4 linked regions of the Homo sapiens genome follow. The protein of the gene in region 2 interacts with the protein of the main gene of each other region in a biochemical or structural test. Each region holds a gene or a part of one and is shown on either strand. Other genes may lie near its edges.

The links. The genes of interacting proteins can lie anywhere in the genome.
Region 1: the proteins of PATJ (region 2) and EFNB3 interact in a test that uses a peptide from one of them, tested with the Homo sapiens proteins (one large-scale study listed by IntAct).
Region 3: the proteins of PATJ (region 2) and MAP2K2 interact in a test that uses a peptide from one of them, tested with the Homo sapiens proteins (one large-scale study listed by IntAct).
Region 4: the proteins of PATJ (region 2) and AGMAT interact in a test that uses a peptide from one of them, tested with the Homo sapiens proteins (one large-scale study listed by IntAct).

Annotation. Positions count from the first base shown.
Region 1 is NC_000017.11:7,708,202-7,711,879, reverse strand, and holds the end of EFNB3 (ephrin-B3 precursor), read right to left. Parts: coding exon 3,630-3,678; intron 3,446-3,629; coding exon 3,353-3,445; intron 3,246-3,352; coding exon 3,141-3,245; intron 2,714-3,140; coding exon 2,304-2,713; 3' UTR 508-2,303; downstream 1-507. UniProt on the Homo sapiens protein: Cell surface transmembrane ligand for Eph receptors, a family of receptor tyrosine kinases which are crucial for migration, repulsion and adhesion during neuronal, vascular and epithelial development.
Region 2 is NC_000001.11:61,762,191-61,767,272, forward strand, and holds part of PATJ (inaD-like protein), read left to right. Parts: intron 1-667; 5' UTR 668-702; coding exon 703-724; intron 725-822; coding exon 823-989; intron 990-4,088; coding exon 4,089-4,283; intron 4,284-5,082.
Region 3 is NC_000019.10:4,117,616-4,121,122, reverse strand, and holds part of MAP2K2 (dual specificity mitogen-activated protein kinase kinase 2), read left to right. Parts: intron 1-3,493; coding exon 3,494-3,507. UniProt on the Homo sapiens protein: Catalyzes the concomitant phosphorylation of a threonine and a tyrosine residue in a Thr-Glu-Tyr sequence located in MAP kinases. Activates the ERK1 and ERK2 MAP kinases.
Region 4 is NC_000001.11:15,571,192-15,575,051, reverse strand, and holds the end of AGMAT (guanidino acid hydrolase, mitochondrial precursor), read left to right. Parts: intron 1-210; coding exon 211-295; intron 296-1,327; coding exon 1,328-1,401; 3' UTR 1,402-3,353; downstream 3,354-3,860. UniProt on the Homo sapiens protein: Hydrolyzes linear guanidino acids to form urea and the corresponding amines. Displays specificity for substrates having a negatively charged head group and short chains including taurocyamine, guanidino propanoic and butanoic acids.

The sequences.
Region 1 (3,678 bases), on a different chromosome or scaffold from region 2:
GAGCCTCGGTTATGGGTATACAGGGAGCCAGGGCACACGCAGCTTGATGCCTGGGTCCCTCCCTGAGTCCTTCCTACTTCCTTCTGATCAGCCACATCCCTTCTCCCCATGAGTCCCCAACAGCAAAACTTCTCAAGTGCCTTGGGTAGGGATGGTAGGGAATAGACTTTAACATGTGAACATGTTTTTACCACTTTGATCCTAATTGCGTCTTACCCTGTCTCTGGTGCTTTGGCTTAGCAAGACACTCAGACTGTCCCCATGGATGAATTGGCGACCCCACTCCTGCCTGCATTACTCTCTCCCTCCCCTAGAGGTGACACCTTCCTCTGCCTTCTCGCCCAGCCCATTTTCGCCTCCCCAAGCACTGCCAACCTCACCACTCCAAACTAGCCCTATCCCTACCCACCCCCCTTGGTTGGTTTCATGCAATCCAACCCTCAGCTGAAAGCCATTCTAACCAAGCCTTTGTCCCAATTCAAGTCCAGTCATTCTCCAGCCTTCTTGTCAACTTTTGAAGTTTTTTATTTTTATTTTTTTTGGTTTTTGTTGTTCAAATTTCCCTTTTACAGTAAAACTACTGAGGTGACGGCATACCCCGCCACCATGGCAATATCAACTTCCTGTTCCCCAGAAGGAGCGATTAGAAAAATCAGGAAGGAGCTGGGAACTACAGCACCAGAGAGGTGAACTTGACCTCTGGTGGACAAAGCAACCATCTTGGCTGGTGATTGAGGTGGCCAACCTGGTGCCCAACAACAGCTTTGATCTAATAAAACTGAGCTGGGAGGAAACTGAGGCAACACCCAATTGCACACTAGAGGGCAGGAAGAGGTATCAGCTGGTCACTATGGAAACAGTGGCCTTTGCTAAGTACCACTGTCAGCTAGACCAGCCAGTAGGCCACCATTTTGGTCACTAAGAAGGGAACTGTGTTGAGTCTGAAAGGAGTCAGAAATGTAGGATGGAATGAACAAGACAGCCATCTGGGTTACTCGGGAGAGCACATGGGTTCTTGGGGTAGTCCTGTTGATTAACAGAGATTATACTGGGATATGGAAAGGAAAGAACAAGACAAATTAGGCCTGCCACAGCACATGGCAGTCATCTTAGCTGTCCTAAAATCAGCACAGAGCACAAGGGAAGGGAGATCTTGGGAAGTGCCACTGAAGACTGGGAAAAGTCCTTCTCGGTCCACCTCTAACCTCTTACAGTCAGTAAGTTCCAGCTTCCTCCTGAAAGGAAGTTCTTCCCGCCCTTCTTCTCCACAGAATAAGAACCATCCACCTCCCACCTCCTGATCCCCCAGACTAAGCCACTTGGAGTTCCAGCCAGACCACTTCCTGTTTCAGAAGTGCTACTTCCTGTCCTGGATGAAGGCACTTCCAGTTCCTGCTGCACTGCTTCTGCTACTTCCCAGGCCATTTCTGTCCGGGCCTGGTCACCTCTTGTCTGGAGCAAGTCACTTCCGGTCCCAAGTGGCCCATTCAGCATCAGACCAAGTCCATACATGTCCCGACCGGTTCATATCTTGCTATTGGCCACTGGACAAAACGGGACACTTCTTCTCATGGTAGCTGTCATGACCCAACCACCCCAAATGGCTGGAGTAAGTATGTAGAGGCCTGGGCCAGGCCAGAGAATGGAGCCCTGCTGCCCATGGCCTGAGCTGGGGTGGAGTGTCAGAGCCTTCCCCATAAGGCCCCCATTTTTGGCAGACTGAGGGGAGTGGTTGGTATGAGAGGTCAGAAGGGGGGCTGAAAGCTAAGGGGAGAAATGCTTTGATGCCCCCACCCAGGAGATGGGAGAGGCACAGGATAAGAAGCCAAGAGGGTGAAAGGAGATGTGGGGAGGAGGATGCTAGGGAAGAAGAACAGACCTAGAGACGGAAGAGAGGGAAAGAATAAGAGATAGAGAAGAGAAAACCAGTGAGAGGCAGAAAGAAGGCGGTGCCAACCAAAAGGTGGGCTGTTCCCGCCCCTAGCTCTGGGTGGGTGAGGGGGACAAGGATGCCTGGGTCATGGTCAGAGAGGAGGCTGAGCCTGTGCCCCTCCCCAAGGAAAAAGGATCCAGGGACACTGAGACAGAGGGGGGCACCCATGGCCAAACGGGAGGGCAGGAAGTGGGGCAGTGGGAATCCTAAGGAATCCTAAAAGTGGAGACGAGGACAGCAGCCGGGAGGAGTGAAGGGGCTGGGGGGGCACAGGGGGCCGAGATGTTAGAGGTGTCCCTCAAACCAGGAATTAAACTGGAGGAGCACCCCAAGAAGGGCTGGATTCAGGATAGCCACGTGAGAGGAGCCCTCATACCTTGTAGTAGATGTTTGGAGGGCTCTGGGGGGGCCCATCCTGCACGATATACACAGGATGCCCATAGTCACCACTCACCTTCTCATAGTGGGGGCAGAAGGGGGGATCTGCAGCCCCGCCACCCCGCAGAGCTATCCCTAGCTCCCCAGGCTCAGCCTCCCGAGGTCCCATCCCACCTCCACCCCCCAGGCCCAGAGACCCTCCCCTCCCGAAGGAGCCAGGACCAGGGTGGCGACTCTCCGAAGGCTTGGCCCGCCGTCTCCGCCAACACATGGCACCCCCAGCCCCTGCCACGCCCAGCAAGAGCAGCGCCAGCCCCCCTGCTGCCCCAGCCACTGCAGGCATGCTGGGAGGGGGCAGGGGGCCTTCAGCACCCCGGGAGGTTGCATTGCTGGTGGGGTCACCTGGCAGGGAAGGGGTGAAGGAGGAAAGAGGGGGAGGGACTGAAGGAGCCACCTGGGCACCTGGACACCCAACCCTGGGGGTCCCCATGGGCTTCCCTTGTAGCGCCCAGGCCCCTTGGGGACCCCATCTCTCCTCCCCCTCCGAACTCTGCTCAGAATCCAGGTGTCCAGCCCTTCAGCTTCCTGCCACGGAGTCCTCCCCACTTCTCTGACAGCACTGATTGAAGCACTGACTTGGCTAATTAGTTCTAATTGAGTCTTTTCCTCATTTGGTTTCCATTCCCCTCCCACCCTCCCATCCTCTCTTCTCCTCTTTCCTGTATCACCGCCCCCAAAACTGAAGAGGGAGGGAGGGTGACGGCAGGGCAGCTGGGGTCTGAGAGCAGAGGAAGCTGGGGAAGGCAGGGGCCTAGCCCCTGGTTCCTACCTGGCAGGTTCTCCTTCCCAGGCTCCAGGCTGTGGGCTGCCCCTCGGTCTCTTTCCATGGGCATTTCAGACACAGGTTTTCGGGGGACAGCCCCTCCTCGGGGACCTGGAGATGAGGAAGACCCAGAGAGGGGCTGAGACAACTGCCCCAACCATGATCGTACTGCCCCAACGTCCCTTCGTGCCCAGGAGGTGTCCCCCAGCCCCACTCACTTTGTCCCACTCGGAGAAGCACCTTCATGCCTCTGGTTAGGCACACACCTCCCTGCAGGCTCTCCAGGCCCTCCCGGGTCCCATCCGATGTGGCTGGGAGAGAAAAGCCAGAGGAAGAGGTTGGCACTCCAGAATCTAGCCCTGATTCTGGCCCCACACCCTGGTGTGAACACTGCCTGAGGGCACTGGGATCTCCCTCTTGGCTGCAGGGGTCCCCCTCCCTCTCTGCTCAGTATCAGGAGCCCCCCACTCAATCGTGCCCTCTGCCCAGCAGTACCAATGATGTAGTAATCGTGGTGCGAGCGGAACTCGTGGCCCCAGAGATT
Region 2 (5,082 bases):
ATGACCCTGCCCCAGGTAAATTAATCTATAATTGTAGATTAGTTTTGTCAGTACTTGAACTTCATATGAATGTAATCATACAGTATGGTTTGTGCCTTTTTTGGGTCAGGTTTCTTTTTTTCCACATATCATTTTTGAGATTTATCCTTGTTGTGTGTATCAGTAATTTTTCCTTTTTATTTCTGAATATTATATACCATTTGTTTATTCATCTGTTACTAGACACTTGGGTTTTTCTAGTTTTGGGGTTTTTGTAAATAAAAATGCTGTAAACTTTCATGTGCAGGCGTTTTTGTGAGCATATATTTTCATGAATACTGAGTAAGTATTTGTGAGTGGAAGTGCTGGGTCATATAGTAAGTGTATTTTTAACTTTATAAGAAACTACCAATTTTCCGAAGTGGTTGTGATATTTTACGTTTCTCTTAGCAATGTACAATAATAGTTCCAGGCACTTCACAGCCTCGTTGAAACTTAGTGTTGTCTGTTTTTAAATTTTAGTTACCTTAGTGGGTGTGTAGTGGCACCTCATTGTGGTTATAATTTTGAATTTCACTGAGTGGAGCCTTGATAAAGAATGTTCTTGAGGTTTTCCTTAATTTTTCTACAGGATTGTAGCCATATACAATTGAAATTCATCTTTTATATTGTTAAATTTTTTCTTTAGGTGTCTTTAAGAGTGATTGAAGAGAATAATTCAAAATGCCTGAAAATCCTGCTACAGGTATACTGGATATATTGTTCTATAATTAAATTAATTATTTAAAAATGGAATCTCAAATGGGACTTAACTATTACTCTACTTATTCATCTTGACCCAAGATAAACTGCAGGTGCTGCAGGTACTTGATCGCCTGAAAATGAAATTGCAGGAGAAGGGTGACACGTCGCAGAATGAGAAGTTATCTATGTTTTATGAGACACTAAAGAGTCCTCTCTTCAACCAGATACTCACACTTCAGCAGTCCATCAAGCAACTGAAGGGTCAAGTAAGTTACCCATCAGAGTTTTACATTAATATATTATATTAATATATTCAAACCATCAAAGAAAGATAGAGGAGATAGACAAAGACAAATTATCTTTAAGGACTCAGTTCAGCAAAGAGACTGTATTGGGACCTGTAACCTATAACCTGTGGGTAGCATTGGCATAGATAATTTAGAAATATCAATAATCAATTTTTTCTTTGGTAACTGGATGTGGTGGCATGTACCGGTAGTCCCAGCAACTCAGGAGTCTGAGGTGGGAGGACTGCTTGAGCCCAGGAGTTCCAGGTTGCAGTGAGCTATGATCATGCCACTGCACTCCAGCCTGGATGGCAGAGTTGAGACCCTGTCTCAAAAAAAAAAAAAAAAATTGTGTTTGGTTTTAGAATATGGTTTTTGTACTTATTTAAGTATGTAAAGGTCAGATGCTTTGAGAATTCTCAACATCTTCAAAACTATAAAATAGTGCTTAACTTAAATATATTTTCTTTTTATTTTGAGACAAGGTTTCTCTCTGTCACTGAGGCGGGAGTGCAGTGCTGTGATCCTAGCTCACTGCAGCCTTGACCTCCCAGGCTCAAGCAATGTTCCCACCTCAGCTTCCAGAGTAGCTGGGATAGGTGTGTGCCACCACAGTTGGGCTAATTTTTAAAAATTTTATAGAGGCAGGGTCTCCCTATGTTGCCCAGGCTGGTCTCAAACTATTGGCCTCAAGCAGTCCTCCTACCTCAGCCTTCCAAAGTGCTGGGATTATAGGCATGAGCCACCTTGCCCAGGCGTATTTTCCTTATGAAGTCTTTTTTTGTGTGTGTGTGTGGTCTTTTTTTTTGTGTGTGTGTGTTATTATTATTATTTTTTTTAGTAGAGACGGGGTTTCACTGTGTTAGCCAGGATGGTCTGTATCTCCTGACCTTGTGATCCACCTGCCTCAGCCTCCCAAAGTGCTGGGATTATAGGCGTGAGCCACCTCGCCCGGCCGAAGTCTTTTATCTAACAAGAAGTGATCATGCCCTTATAGCACAATAGTCACACTTCTCTTAATTATCAAATATTTGTTGTCTTTCATGCGTATTCTGATTAGAAGTTCCTTGGAAGCAGAATACCTGGTATTTAAATATATAGTTATGTTTCTTCTACTCATTTACCACACTATCTGGATTCTTCAGGCTCTAATACATCATTATTGAATAAGGGACACATATCACCTCTTCTTAGAGGGGTGCAAATTAGCAGTTGTGGGATTTTTTTTTTTTTTTGGTGCTGAGATTGAACCAGAAATTAATTGTTTTAACTGTCCTCTTGGATTCTTTGTTTTGGGGTCAGGGATGGCAAATTACTTTTAAATCACCTATTCTGGAAGCTGAACTTGAATAGTAGCTATACCATAGATGAAATTTGGGCAGAATTTAAAACATAATTGGAGCTAATTTAGCACAGTTAAGTGAAAATTTACAAAATTTGGGAAAAAATGGTTTTTGCTGATAAACTAAAATGCTTGCCCATTAAGTATTTTGTGAGTGATTTGTTTATAGCCAATTAAGGATTAAATTCTACATGTGTCTTTCTGTGAATTGCTTTCTTTAGACCAGAATTTATACCCTAATTTTAGCACTGCCTATATTGATGTTTAGCTTTCTGTATTTCTCTTGGTCACAGAATATCACAATAGTGAATGCTGTTGGTAGCAACTGAAATTGGCAAAGATCAGCAGAAATCTATCACACTTGTTGGACTAAGAGTGGCTGTAACTACCCTATCCTAATAACAATTCTTTATATTTGTATAGTTTGGAGTTGTTATGTACACAGTCATATTTTATGCATTGGACTGTATAATCCCTGTAGCCAGGGGTTTTTTATTTTTTCTTTGAGGTTTTATTGACATTCATTTTTTTTTTTTTTTTTTTTTTTTTTTTTTTTTGAGGCAGAGTATTTGCCTGGGCTAGAGTACAGTGGTGTGATTATGGATCATTGTAGCCTCAACCTCCTGGGCTCAAGCAATCCTCCCACTTCATCCTCCCAAGTAGCTGGGCCTACAGGCATGTGACACCATGCCCAGCTAATTTTTGTATTTTTTGTTGAGACAAGAGTCTCACTATGTTGCCCAGGCTGGTCTTGAACTCCTGGCCCTGAAGCAGTCCTCCCACCTTGATCTCCCAAAGTGCTGGGATTACAGGTGTGAGCCATCACACCCGGCCTAACATTTATTCTGTTTTTTTTTTTGGAGACAGAGTCTTGCTCTGTCATCCAGGCTGAGTGCAGTGGTGCAATCTCGGCTCACTGTAGCCTCCACCTGCGGGATTCAAGCAATTCTCTTGCCTCAGCCTCCCAAGTACCTTGGAATTACAAGTGTGTACCACCATGCCCGGCTAATTTTTGTATTTTTGATAGCGATGGGGTTTCACCACTGACATTTATTCTTAATGTTACCTTTATTCTACTGTTTTGGCAGTTGTATCAGCCAATGATATTTTAAATTATGTCCACCATAATTACATGATTCTCCTCTTTCTATCAATGTTTAAGTGGCTCCGTGACTCACTGCTAATCTTGAGTAAGTTACTTAACCCCTGTGTGCCTCGGTTTTTAGGCTCACAAAATGGGATAATGATATCTCATTAGATTGTTGTAAGAATTAAATGATAATACCTGCAATCATGCTGGTATAGTACTTACTCATAGCAAGCACTCAATAAGTACAGTTATTATCATTATATACTACCTGTGGATCTTTTGTTGCTCCCCACGTGGAATTGTACAGATAAATGGAAAAAGGTTTAGTGCCTTACACTGTTATGTGACTGGATGCATCTGTATATGTGAAGTGTAAAAAGATGTCAGTGTACATGCTGTTAACTTGGACTAGTGGTAGAAGGCAGGAAATAAGAACAAATTTTAAGCTATTAAACATTTTGTGTAATACTAAATTTAAAAAATTTTTAGCCTTGTGAATACACAGATTTGATCTATCTTTACCTTATTTCTTTTCCATGTATATATTTAATGTGCAAAGTATCTATGTAATGGTCAAAATATATTTAATAAATAGAAACAATTTTTCTATAGATTTCTGTTGATTCTTTTTTTTTCTCTCCAACAGCTCAACCATATACCCTCAGATTGTTCAGCCAACTTTGATTTTTCTAGGAAAGGTTTGTTAGTGTTCACAGATGGTTCCATCACTAATGGAAATGTCCACAGGCCCTCTAATAACTCGACTGTATCTGGGTTATTTCCGTGGACCCCGAAGTTGGGAAATGAAGACTTTAACTCAGTCATTCAACAGATGGCTCAGGTAAAGTTGTATCTTCTCATGGAAATATTTAGCTTCATTTCTCCTGTTTTAGTTTTACAAAGGAGCTTATACTCATTCTTTTTGCTGTAAAATGTATTAGTATGTATTTTGCTTGCTTCTATTTTTATATTGTTAGGAGAAACTGACACCATTTTCTAACCTGTGTGTTGAAAATTTATTGACTTAAAATTACATAAGGAAAGTATCCATGTATGTGGTAAGGAGAGCTTTTTAAAAAAAAATTAACATTTATTTTTTGAGATAAGGTCTTGCTAAGGAGAGTTTTTAGACAATGACTAATTGAACACATCTCTATTCTTGTTAAAATAAGATTTTTGGCCAAGCGCAGTGGTTCACACCTGTAATTGCATCACTTTCTGAGGCCGAGGAGGGTGGATCACTAGAGGTCAGGAGTTTGAGACTAGCCCGACCAACATGGCAAAACCCTGTCTCTACTAAAAATAGAAAAATTAGCCGGGCGTGGTGGCAGGCACCTGTAATCCCAGATAGTTGGGAGGCTGAGGCAGGAGAATCGCTTGAACCCCAGAGGCGGAGGTTGCAGTGAGCCGAGATTGCGCCACTGTACTCCAGCCTGGGTGACACCCCATAATTAATGGAAATTAGAACTAATGTAATTTGGAAAATCTAGAAAACATTTGGAAGGATAATCTGGTTGTAGCCCCTAATACCTATTAAAAATTAAATAATAAACAATTAAAATTTTGGACATGTTAGTTTTATGTATGTTCACCTCGACCTTCAAGTGCCATTAAAAATGAAATGAAGTTTGAATGTGGTA
Region 3 (3,507 bases), on a different chromosome or scaffold from region 2:
GTGGGGTCATGCCAGGGTGATCTCTGCACTCCCGTTCTGCAGGCCGAGGCAGGGCAGGGCGATCCCCGGGGCCCTTGGCTGGGGTCCGGGTGCCGTGCCTGCGGTGTGACCCCTCAAGAACCAGGTGTCAGGGACTGTGGCATGTCTGGTGGCCTCTCCCGCTTGGGGGTCGGCCTTCTGTGACCCAGATGAAGACTCTTGATGCCAATGTGTGCAAGTCAACACGGGCACAGCCAGACACGGGGACCCGTTCCTCATTCTCTGCACAGAACTCGCCCTTCACATTTCTCTTCCGTGTGGGGTTTGATTCCCATCTCTTGAAGGATTCCCCCAGGAGAGGAAGCTGGCTGTAGGGACGCCAAGGTTTTGTTTTGTTTTGTTTAATAACCACAGTTGGGTTGCCAGTAAATTTAAGATGGATTAGTCAGCTGACTCCAGAATGCATTTTCAATGTTTTGAGCAGTACTTGAGACCTTCCAAGTCTGCCATCAGAAGTGTTCATTCATGGCTGGGTGTGGTGGCTCACGCCTGTAATCCCAGCCCTTTGGGAGGCCAAGGTGGGTGGATTACTTGAGGCCCAGAGTTCAAGACCAACCTGGCCAACATGGCAAAACCCCGTCTCTATTAAAAATGCCAAAAAAATTAGCTGAGCGCGGTGATGCACACCTGTAATCCCAGCTACTCAGGAGGCTGAGGCAGGAGAATCGCTTGGACCCAGGAGGCAGAGGTTGCAGTGAGCTGAGATCGTGCCAGTGCACTCCAGCCTGGGCGACAGAGCAAGACTGTCTCAAAAAAAATAAATATTCATTTATTCATTGATGTTATTCATTCATTCATTCATGTTCCCCTCCTTACCTTCTGTCCCACTCCCAGGGTCTCGCCATTTCTGCTTCTTCTGGGTCCTTGTTCAGCAGCTCCTCAGTGAGCACCTACTAGGGCCCTGTTTCCCCTCATGGGGGACACTAAGATGAGCAGGGGTTGTCCTGACCTCAGGCAGGTGTTGTTACCTCGGGCAGGTTCCCCCACCCCTGTGAGTCTGTTCCCTCCTGCCTGGGCCTCCGGGGACGATGGTGAGAATGGAATGAGATGGTGTTTGTCCAGCCCAGGAAGCGGTGCCCAGGCCCCTGCCTTCCAGCGAGCTCTTTGCAGCACCAGCTCCAGCGCCATCGCCTCGGTTCTGGCCTGTGTGCCCCGTGGCTTACGCCACTTCCAGCTGTAGGCGAACAGTGGTCGAACTTTGGGATTGGAAATTTCCAGATGGAAGGAGCAGTCCACGCCTTCATTCCCTGCTTCAGTCCCCTCTCTGGCTGTCCACCTTGGCTTTAGCTCCTTCCTGAATTGGGACCTCTGGAGGTGGCCTGTTCTTCCAGAGAGCCATTTAAAGCTGCACTGCCTGGTTGAGTAGCCCCTGGCTACAGGCAACACATAAAACAAGAATTGCCCAAACCCACGAGAGCATAGGCGCAATAATGCCATTGTAGATTTCAAAGGCTTAAGACGGAAACAGTGTGAAACATTCATTCATTTTTCATACTGGTTGTACGTTGAAAATGATAACATTTTTGATGGGTTAAATCAAATGTGTTATTAAAATTAATTTCAGCCAGGTGCAGTGGCTTATGTCTGTAATCCCAGCACTTTGGGAGGCCAAGGTGGGCAGGTGGCTTGAACCCAGGAATTCAAGAGCAGCCTGACCAACATGGCGAAACCTTGTCTCTACTAAAAATACAAAAATTAGCTGGGCGTGGTGGCGGGTGCTTGTAATTCCAGCTACTTCGGAGGCTGAGGCAGGAGAATTGCTTGAACCCGTGAGGTGGAGGTTGCAGTGAGCCAAGATCACACCACTGTACTCCAGCCTGGGCGACAGAATGAGACTTTGTCTCAGAAAATAATAATAATAATAAAAATTAATTAATTAAAAAGAGCCAGACATGATGGCTCACACCTGTGATCCTAGCTACTAGGAAGGCTGAGGTGGGAGGATCACTTGAGGACAGGAGTTGGAGGCTGCAGTGAGCTGTAATCGTGCCGCTGCACCCCAGCTTGGGAGGTAGAGCAGGACCCTGTCTCTAAATAAATGAAGTGAGTTCACCTGTTCTTTTTAAACATGGGTACTAGAAGATTTTAATTTGTGCGCATGGTTTACATTCCATTGCTTGTGCACAGCAATGGGTTCCTGTGTGCATTGCGCTTAGTTGTCTGTTACTCCAGGATCTGGTTCTGAGTCAAGGCATTTGTGAAAATAGCTTACTGTCGAAATTTCCTCTGAAGATTCCTTGAATCACCCAATAAAGTGCAATGTACTTGCTTGTTTAAATTGTTAGAAATTTTTTATTGTGTAGAAACAAGGTCTTGCTCTGTCACCCAGGCTGGAGTACATTGTCACGATCATGGCTCACTGCAGTCTCGACCTCCTGGGCTCAGCCTCCTGAGTAACTAGAACTACAGGCATGAGCCACTGTGCTCGGCTATAGGTCTCACTTTGTTGCCCAGGCTGGTCATGCTTATTTTTTGTTTTTTTTGTTTTTTGGTTTGTTTTGTTTTGAGACAGAGCCTCCCTCTGCTGCCCAGGCTGGAGTGCAGTGGCAAGATCTCAGTTCACTGCAATCTCCCCCTCCCGGGTTCAAGCAGTTCTCGTGTCTCAGCCTCCCAAGTAGCTGGGACTGCAAACGTGCACCACCGTGCCTACCTGATGCAGCTTTTGTGCTGAGCCTTCTGCCCTCTACTCTTGGTTCTCATTCTGTGCTCTGAGGCTGCTCAGAACGCTTGTTCCTCTATCTCCTGCAAAGACAGACATCTTGGCCCGGGCTCCGTTCACCCGATCCCAGCTTCCTCGTCTCCTCCCGACATGGTCCGGAGCTCGTGCGTTAGGAAGGAGGTCTCCCGGCCGCGTGCAATGGCTCACGCCTATAATCCCAGCACTTTGAGAGGCTGAGGCAGGCGGATCACTCAATGTCAGGAGTTGGAGACCAGCCTGACCAACATGGCGAAACCCTGTCTCTACTGAAAATACAAAAATTAGCCGGGCATGGTGGCGGGAGCCTGTAATCTCAGCTACTTGGGAGGCTGAGGCAGGAGAATCTCTTGAACCCGGGAGGCCAAGGTTGCAGGGAGCCGAGATCGCGCCACTGCATTCCAGCCTGAGCAACAGAGGGAGACTCCGTCTCAAAAAAAAAAGAAAAAGAAAAGAAAAAGACGGAGGCTTCCTGGGTCCTTTGAGCTGCAGCTTATCCTTGAGGTCCTGAGGTCTGCTAGACTTGTTGAGACAGGATCAAGGCAGCGTCCTCAGTTCCCGGGGAGCCGCCCTGGATTCTGGTCATTGGTGTGTCTATGGGGGTACACAGCATGGATCCTTTCCTTCTACACCATGAACCCCTCAAGTGCAGGAATCCAGTCTGTGTCCTCCTGGGGGCCGATGCACCACGGCCACATAGCAAACGGCCAGATGGAGTCTCCCTAGGTAGCTAACCCCTACCCTGGGGGGTCTCTGCAGGGCAAACCTGGTGG
Region 4 (3,860 bases), about 46 Mb from region 2:
ACCACACCATGCAGCCCTGAGGAGCAGGGACTGTGTACGCATTATCTGTTTCTCTGGGAGGCCTGCCAGTGTGCCTGGCAGTCAACAAATGTTTATGGAGGGAAAGCCAATTCCAAGTCAAAGGGTGGCGTGGGCTGGGAAAAGCTCTACTGGGTGCTTTTCACTGTAAATGATTACCACTGTGGACAACTCAGTCTTGATCTTGAATAGGCTCTGGAGATCATCAGGGGTTGTCAAGGCCTGAACGTGATGGGCTGTGATCTTGTCGAAGTTTCACCACCGTATGATCTTTCTGGTGAGTAAGCAAAGAGACTGAGATCCATGGGCAGCCGGTAGCTTAAATTACACGAAGCTAGTTAATAAGTAGAAAATGGGGCCAGGCATGGTGGCCCAAGCCTGTAATCCCAGCACTTTGGGAGGCCAAGGTGGGCAGCTCACCTGAGGTCAGGAGTTCAAGACCAATTTGGCCAACATGGCGAAACCCCATCTCTCTAAAGATATAAAAATTAGCCAGGTGTGGTGGCACACACCTGTAATCCCAGGTACTCAGGAGGCTAAGGCAGGAGAATCGCTTAGAACCTAGGAGGCGGAGGTTGCAGTGAGCTGAGATTGCGCCACTGCACTCCAGCCTGGGTGACAGAGCGAGACTCCATCTCAAAAAAAAAAAAAAAAAGATGAGTCCCTTATATGACTTGGGGAAGCAGCTGAGCATGTCCAATGGTGAAGAAAACACACCTATTACTGCACACCTTACAAACATGAGCTCATTAACCCTAACAAAACCCCCAGGAGGTAGTTAAGTATCATTAGCTTGCCCACCAATCAGCAGAAGAGAAAGAAACCAGCCTGTAGTCTAGTGACAGGGTGGCCCAATCCCCGTCTCCTTTGATGTTTCATTGCAAAGTGAATTCTAAAGCATAAATAATATATGTTAATATTTATCAAATAGGAACTTAGCTGGTTAAGATCTTCAAAGCAGACGCCATCCCAATAATTTTAATGTAGACAAACTTATGGAATTAGGCCTATCGACCTCAGAGGATAGATAATACAGTACACATCATTATTATAGGTTCTCCTTTGGGAAAAATCTGTTCTCAGAGTAAACAAAGAACTTTCTGAATTTTAAAATATGATTCCCAAATGATGCTTGATGGAGGCAGAGAGCCTGGGCAAGCGTGTTCACAGCTGGCGGGCACCCTAGAGGGGTGCACAAGACAGGGCTCTGGAAAAGGAGGCACAAGGGGAAGAGAAAGCTGAGGAGTCCCAAGGCTTGGCTCAGCGGGTCGTCTGCAGGGTATTCATGTGAGGTTTTACTTTTTCTTAGGGAACACAGCCCTGCTGGCGGCTAACCTGCTGTTTGAGATGCTATGTGCTCTCCCCAAAGTGACAACCGTCTGAGTCTTGTGCTCTTCAAGACAAAACAGATTGCGTCGCTGACAAGTTCTCAAGAAGAACTTATGAGTAAGCAGTCTGAGAACTAAAGAGTTTATGCCAAGAAAACTTTCTGCTGAAAGTGTCATTGCTGGCTGTGAAGTCGGGATAATCAGTAGAATTCTCACCCAAACAGCAACATTTCTAAGGAACTTGGATTAATTGGGGGAAAAAAAAAGGAGTACTTGTACTGCTTTGATTTTTTTTCCTTTGATGAAAGATGGAGGATAAAGGGGAAGTGAGGAGAATTTCTTTCAAGATTATCTAAACATTAGAAACATGACATTTAAAAAAACTATGAAATAATACTGTATAAGCATTCCATATTTCTATATCTTCCTTTTAAACATTTTTTTTTTTGAGATAGAGTTTTGCTTGTCACCCAGGCTGGAGTGCAATGGCATGATCTCGGTTCATTGCAACCTCCGCCTCCCGAGTTCAATCGATTCTCCTGCCTCAGCCTCCTGAGTACCTGGGATTACAGGTGCCTGCCACCACGCCTGGCTAATTTTTGTATTTTTAGTAGAGACAGGGTTTCACCACATTGGCCAGGCTGGTCTTGAACTCCTGACCTAAGGTGATCCGCCCGCCTCAGCCTCCTTAAAGTGCTGGGATTACAGGCATGAGCCACCGCACCCAGCCGCTTTTTAAAATTTTGATGATCTGCTTCCTAGAGTATTGAGTATCTTCCTTTAAACTACAGCTCCTCCTCGGACGCTGCAGTGAGCTGAGATCGCACCACTGCACTCCAGCCTGGGTGCCAGAGCAAGACTCCATCTCAAAAAAAAAAAAAAAAAATACAGCTTCTCCTATGAGGTGCTTAGGGCTGCATCTTGGTTTTAGGACCACTGTGAACGTAAGTAAAAAGTATAAAGTAACACGGAGAGCCTAATGAAGAAACTTCTTGCTCAGAGGCCTAGAAGGGTACACAAAATGTCTTCTAAACTAGAAAACCTAAGGCTGGACACGGTGGCTCATGCCTGTAATCCCAGCACTTTGGGGGGCGGAGGTGGGCAGATCACTTGAGGTCAGGAGTTCGAGACCAGCCTGGCCAACATGGTGAAAACCCATCTCTACTGAAAATACAGAAGTTAGCTGGGCGTGGTGGCGCGTGCCTATAGTCCCAGCTACTCAGGAAGCTGAGGCAGGGGCATTGCTTGAACCCGGGAGGTGGAGGTTGCAGTGAGCTGAGGTCATGCCACTACACTCCAGCCTGGGTGACAGAGTGAGACTCCGTCTCCAAAAAAAAAAAAAAAAAAAAAAAAGCAGGCCGGACCCAGTGGCTCACGCCTGTAATCCCAGGCCTAGGCGGGAGGATCACCTGAGGTCAGGAGTTCAAGACCAGCCTGGCCAACATGGTGAAACCCCGTCTCTACTAAAAAACAAAACAAAACAAAACAAAACAAAAAAACCCCAGAAAACAAAACAAAACTGGAAAATGTCAGCTGGGCTTTTTTTTTTTTTTTTTTTTCTGAGATGGAGTCTCGCTCTGTCCCCCAGGCTGGAGTGCAGTGGCCCGATCTTAGCTCACTGCAATCTCCGCCTCCTGGGTTCAAGCAATTCTGCTGCCTCAGCCTCCTGAGTAGCTAGAATTACAGTCATGCGTCACCACGCCCGGCTAATTTTTGTATTTTTAGTAGAGACGGGGTTTCACCATGTTGGCCAGGCTGGCAGCTGGGCTCTTAATGTTACTTATTGTAACTCACTTCCTGTAAGACTCAATCTACTCTTCAAGTTGATGTACCCTCTATGACTGTAATTCCTGAAATCTGCAGTTATGCTGTGGTGATCTTAAGCGTGTCTTGAGTTCCATGCAAATTCAATTCTGTTGATAATGTGTCCATAATCAAATCATCATCTTGCAATGCAAGGGCTACCCCATAATTATCAGACATTAAAATAGTTTATTTCTTTTTCCATTCTGTAATCTTAAAATAACATCAGCTTCAGTGCCTGTTCACAATACAAAAAAAGTCAAAAAACAAAAACAACACCCAAAACATAAAAAAGAAACAATTTGCCAAATAAGTTATTTGTTCCTAAGAGTATCAAAAGTGCAAAATATTCACCTTCTTTTCAGATCTCTCCCAAGCATAATTATCCTCCTTGACAAACTGAACAGACAGATTCAGCAGCTGCCACACTGCACTTGTTTTTAGGGGACAATGTCAGACAGGTGGATGTGAACTACAGTTCCTCTGTAAAGATGTTTGGCATCAGCTTTTAAAGAATTCTAGTTAACAAAACAGGTCTGAGTATGTGCTTCCAATCTCTATTCCCAAACAAAGGAAATCACTAAAAAAACAGATCACACTTCTTTTTATAACAGAAAAATATTTATGTAATGATGGCAGCTGCAAATTGATTGGGATGTTAATAAATAAAAAGGAACAAGTATCAACAAGCTGCAAATGAGGAAGAAACCA